Linked DNA regions of Homo sapiens: region 1 is linked to region 2. Evidence: fine-mapped expression QTL. Tissue or cell type: whole blood. Region 2 holds a variant in brackets; the other region holds the start of a gene. All regions are shown on one strand. Distances are from middle to middle. Region 1 holds the start of NEK6 (NIMA related kinase 6). Region 2 has its middle 24 kb from the start of NEK6.

Region 1 (2,906 bases), 24 kb after region 2:
GCCCATGGAAGGTGCTCATAGATGTGTCGGGTGAACCAATGACTGAACTAATGTTTGCTGCATGAATATGGCCAGTATCACAAATCCTCTAGTAACACTGCAATACGCTGTCTCAGAACTTCGATTTCTTTCTATTATTTGTTGCAGTGTTTATTTCTTCTATTTAACTTTTCAATCTGTCTGACATTTATTGTGGTGTATATCATGGGAGGCAAGGCTGTAAACAGATCTCCAGCTAAACGGCTAAACAATTTGCAGAACAATCCATTTCCTCCCCATTGGTTTGTGATGTCTGCATTTTCATCCACAAGAGCTGGGACCAGGCCCGCTCCTGTGGGCCAGCTGCTGCCTCGTCTGCCCTCTTGTTCCAGAAGCCCAGGGCTATGCTGTTCCTGAGGCAGGGCTGCCTAGTGATTGGCCACACAGGCACTGGAATTAGACAATCTGCCGTGCACTTTCCAGCTCAACCACTTACCATCTGGGTGACTTTGAACAAAAGAATTTGCTTTTTATTGTTGTTGTCCAGGTTGGAGTGCAGTGGTGCGATCATAGCTCACTGCAGCTGCTAACTCCTATGCTCAAGAGACCCTCCCGCCTCAGCGTCCCGAGTAGCTGGGACTGCAGGCAGGCACTACCACACCCAGCTAATTCTTACATTTTTCTGTAGACATGGGGTTTTGCTATATTGCCCAGGCTGGCCTCAAACTCCCAGCCTCAAGGCATCCTCCCACCTCAGCCTCCCATAGTACTGGGATTACAGGTGTGAGCCACCGCACCCAGCCTGAAATTTCATTTCTAAGCCTCAAAGCCCATCTGTAAAATGGGCACAAGGGTAACGTTGGCACACGTGGTGGACGCTCCGTTGGTGTCATTATTACAGATCACGGCCAGTTGAAGCACTTCCACTCATTTGGCAAACAGAAGCCAGACGGGCATTCACCCTGTGCCCAGTACAGTGCTGCGCCCAAGCAGGCAGTCAGTGTCCCTGGCTCCAGCCCTCCTGGGGTGCAGCACAGTTTTGAATGTGGAGGGGAGGCAGCAGGGGTGGAAACAGCCCAGCCAGGAGCGGCCGCTCTCGGTGCGGGGAGGAGGTGAAGTGAGAACTGAGCTGCTTGGGTCTCAGGGAGGCTCTGACTTCTAGAGGGGGCGTTCAACATTCTTTAGTGGGGACTTTTACTACTTCCAGAAACCTCTGCACATTGGCTCTTGCTGGTCCCCCGGGGGCCACAGGAAGTGGGAGCTCCAGATGAAGAGTCGCTGGCACTTTGAGGGCAGGGGGCAGGGCCTTCCCCTCATCGGAATACTCTTGGAGCCTACTTCAGTGCCTGCATTCAGCTGGTGCACAATAAGTGCTTGTTACTGTGCCAATTTCAGTATGACTAGGGCTGTGGTAGGAGCAATGCTAGGCGATGGGGAATCCGAAGACGCACAGGAGTCCAAGGGTTGGCTGACTGCAGACCCTCATCATAAGTCTAGAGCCGGAGAAGATGGGGAGACGCCGGCCTGCGCCCTGTGAGTCTGGGCCTCAGTCTTCCCATCTCTGAAATGGGGAAGGGGTTCCTCGGCCGAGCGGATCGGCCGCAGAACTCGGCGGAGTCGAGGGGTCCAGGCCCAGGAAGGACGCCGCCGGGGCGCCCCCCGCCCCTCAAGCTTGCGTGGCGGCAGCGCGCACGAGCGCTGGGGGCGGCGCGGCCCCGCGGCGGGGAGGGGCGGGCGCGCGGGCGCGCGGGCCCGCGCAGGCGGTGGCGGCGGCGGCGGAACCGAGCTGACGGGCGTGCGGCCGCTGCGCCGCAAACTCGTGTGGGACGCACCGCTCCAGCCGCCCGCGGGCCAGCGCACCGGTCCCCCAGCGGCAGCCGAGCCCGCCCGCGCGCCGGTGAGTCGCCTGGGGCTGGGGCCGGGCCGGTGGGGCCCCGCGGCCCGGAGAAGGGCGGGGGCCGGGCGGCGGGGCCGTCACCCCCAGCCGGGCCGAGGGCGGGCGCGCGCCCACGGCTCCGCGGGGGAGAGCGGGAGGCGGGCGCGAGTGTGGCCGCGCGGGGCTGAGCGTGTCGGCGGCCGGGCGGGCGGGGGCGGCGTGTCCGCGTGTCCCGGGGTGTGCGCGTCCCCGGCGGGTGTGCGTGTGCACCCCGGAGCGTCTGGTGGCGTTGTTGGGGTGAGTGCGTGCGGGGACGCGGGCATGGCTCCCCGCTACCCACTTCCCGAGTGGGGACGACGGGCGGAGGAGTGTGCCGGGCGCCGCAGGGAGTACGTGCGGGTCTCAGGGAGTGTGTGTGTGCACGTGTGTGCATTCCAAAGTGATTTGTGTGCAAGCACATGCGTGAGCCTAGAAGGGCGAAAGTATGCCTGTGTGGGTGTGAGTATAACGAGTGTGCAGGGCCGTGCGAGCGTGTTTATTACTGAGGTTGAGGGGCCGGCCCCCTTTGCGCCCACCAGGCCTTTGCACAGTGATGGCCCCCGAGCCAGGGAGCCCGTGGAGAGAGAAGCGGCCTGGCATGGGCTGGGGGTCGGGGCTGGGCCTGATCCGGTGAACCAGGGGCCAGGAGGGCAGACTCAGAGCCTGGCTGGGCCTGACAGAGGCAAAGGTCTTAGAGCCAGGCTGCGGCAGGGCCACTGGCAGGACCCTCTCTGCATACACAGGCTGGGCGAGCGGAGGCTGTGGTGGGCCCCTCGGCCGGGCACCCGAGGACGTGTGTTTTCCTAAATATCCTCCAGGCTCTCCTGTCTTTGTTCTTGTCTCTCTCCAGCCAGGCCTGGGGGGCTGACCCTAGACTTGCCTGTGTATGTGGGGGCCTCTCTGCCTGCCCTGCTAAGTAGACGGATCTTTTGATTTATTTATACCTCTCCTAGGCTCCAAGTGTGAATCCCAGGACAGTAACAAATTGATCACAGCGGGCTTGGGACACCAG
Region 2 (2,906 bases):
AGAAAGAAATCACAAAGAAAACTAGAAAATATTTTGAGCTGAATAACAATGAAAATGTAACATATCTAAGCCTATGTGATACAGATAAAGCAATACAATAAAGGGAAAGTTATAACATTAAATGGCTTTATTCAAAAGGAAGAAAGTCCCAAAATAAATACATTTGCTAAGCTTCCACCTTTAGGAACTAGATAAAGAAGAGCAAATTAAACCCAAAGCAGGTAGAAAGAAAGAAATAATAAGATAAGAGTAGAAATCAATGACTAGAAAACAGAAAAACAAGAGAGAAAATAAATGAAACCACAAGCTGCCTCTTTGAAAACATCAACAACATTGATAAACTTCATCTTCAATCAGTAGAAAAGAGAAAGTCACGGGCCAGGTGCAGTGGCTCATGCCTGTAATCCCAGCACTTTGGGAGGCCGAGGTGGGAGGATCACGAGGGGAGGAGATGGAGACCATCCTGTCTAATGTAGTGAAACCCCGTCTCTACTAAAAATACAAAAAATTAGCCAGATGTGGTGGCGTGTGCCTGAAGTCCCAGCTACTCGGGAGGCTGAGGCAGGAGAATTGCTTGAACCCAGGAGGTGGAGTTTGCAGTGAGCCGAGACAGTGCCACTGCACTCCAGCCTGGGCGACAGAGCAAGACTCCATCTCAAAGAAAAAAAAAAAGACACAAATTACCAACAAGAAAAATGAAAGCCTGGGTGCAGTGGCTCTGCCTGTAATCCTGACACTTTGGGAGGCTGAGGCAGGAGGATTGCTTAAAGCCAGGAATTCAAAACCAGCCTGGGCAACACAGCGAGACCCTGTCTCTACAAAAAGTAAAAAAATTCGCTGGGTGTGGTGGCTCATGTTTGTAGTCTTAGCTACTTGGGAGGCTGAGGTGGGAGAATCCCTTGAGTCTAGGAGGTCAAGGCTGCAGTGAGCTATGATAGCGCCATTACACTCCAGCCTGGGTGACAGAGCAAGACCTTGTCTCAAAAAAAAAAAAAAAAAAAAAAAAAAAGAAAGAAAGAGAGGGCATCCCTACACATCCTGTGACCATTAAAAAGATAATAAGGAAGTATTGTGCCCAAAGTTATGACCACAAATTTGACAACTTAGATGAAGTGGGCATATTCCTTGAAAGACACAAACTAGCAAAGTTCTCAAGAAGAAACAAAGGGAAG[C/T]GGAAAAGATAACTATTGGGTACTGGGCTTCATAGCTGGGTGATGAAATAACCTGTACAACAAACCCCCATGACACATGTTTACCTATGTAACAAACCTTCACATGTACCCCCAAACCAAAAATACAAGTTTAAAAAAAGAGGGAAAACATTACTTTTTCTCTCTTTTAGTTTGAGAAACTAGCAGTTAATTTTTTTTTTTTTTTTTTTTTTTTGAGACGGAGTCTCACTCTGTCGCCCAGGCTGGAGTACAGTGGTGCCATCTAGGCTCACTGCAAGCTCCACCTCCCAGGTTCACGCCATTCTCCTGCCTCAGCCTACCCGGCAGCTGGGACTACAGGCACCCACCACGACGCCTGGCTAATTTTTTGTATTTTCAGTAGAGACGGGGTTTCACCATGTTAGCCACGATGGTCTCAATCTCCTGACCTTGTGATCCTCCTGCCTCAGCCTCCCAAAGTGCTGGGATTACAGGCATGAGCCACCACGCCCGGCCTAAAATTTTATTATGTGAATATGTATGTTAGTGATTTCATGTTAGCATATATGTAGCAAAACCAATAAAACTGTCATCAGCATTGAAATAATAAAATGTGTTGGCTTTTTTTTTTTTTTTGAGACAGAGTCTAGCTCTGTTGCCCAGGCTGGAATGCAGTGGCACGATCTCAGCTCACTGCAACCTTTACCTCACCAGTTCAAGCCATTCTCATGCCTCAGCCTCCCGAGTACCTGGGATTACAGGTGTGTGCCACCACGCCCAGCTGATTTTTGTATTTTTAGAAGGGACAGAGTTTTGCCATATTGGGCAGCCTGGTCTTGAGCTCCTGACCTCAAGTGATCCACTCACCTCAGCCTCCCAAAGTGCTGGGATTACAGGCGTGAGCCACCACACCCGGTCTTTTTTTTTTTTTTGTAAGACAGGGTTTCATTCTGTGGCCCAGGCTGGAGTGCAGTGAAGCAATCTTGGCTCACTGCAACCTCCACTTCCTGGGTTCAAGTGATTCTCCTGGCTCAGCATCCCGAGTAGCTGGGATTACAGGTGTGTGACATCACACCTACCCAGCTAATTTTTGTATTTTTAGTAGAGATGGGGTTTTACCATGTTGGTCGGGCTGGTCTTAAACTCCTGACCTCAAGTGATCTTTCCTCCTCGGCCTCCCAAAGTGCCAGGATGACAGGCGTGAGCCACTGTGTCCAGCCATAATATGTTTGGCTTTGAGTACACTGTTTAAATAAAGCAACACCTAAGGGTGTCACTGGGAGGTCTATGAAATAGGCTGAAGTATTAAAAACCAAGCAAAAATAGTAAGAAAAGCTGAGAAAGAAACATGGAAAGGAAAAAAAAAGGAGTGAAAAAAGATTGGCAAAGTAGTGCCTCACCAAGAAAATGTCTTTCATGCTGTTTAGTGATATTCTCGGTTAAAAATTTCTAAAAGCTGTGGAAAGCAAGTCAAATTTTGTTCTAGCCTTCTGCTGTGAAAACATTAGGTAACAAATATGTGTCAAATCTATTGTTTTCCAAAATATGGTGTTCATGCTTGAAATACGCCATTGCCAAATAAAGTCTATTTTTGATATACATAAAAAAAGAAGAAACAGAAAACCCAAATAGTCCTATACATCAATTAAGGAATAGAAATTCATAGTAAAAACTTTCTCATGAAAAAATTTCCCAGCCCAGATGGCTTCACTGGTGAATTTTATTAGTTAAATTTATTTTAAAAGAAATATTAAT

Evidence for each region.
Region 1: it holds the start of NEK6, and the variant in region 2 is fine-mapped to the expression of NEK6 in whole blood (INTERVAL, PIP 0.97).

Annotation. Positions count from the first base shown.
Region 1 is chr9:124,256,210-124,259,115 of GRCh38, forward strand. NEK6 (NIMA related kinase 6) reads left to right here and starts at 1,740. Exons shown (of 10, transcript NM_014397.6): 1 at 1,740-1,876. RefSeq lists silencers at 1,760-1,889, 1,950-2,319 and an enhancer at 2,357-2,906.
Region 2 is chr9:124,232,103-124,235,008 of GRCh38, forward strand. No RefSeq gene overlaps it. Among named protein-coding and RNA genes, the nearest start is that of NEK6, 24 kb to the right of the region's middle. The variant C/T (reference allele first, on the strand shown) is at 1,173.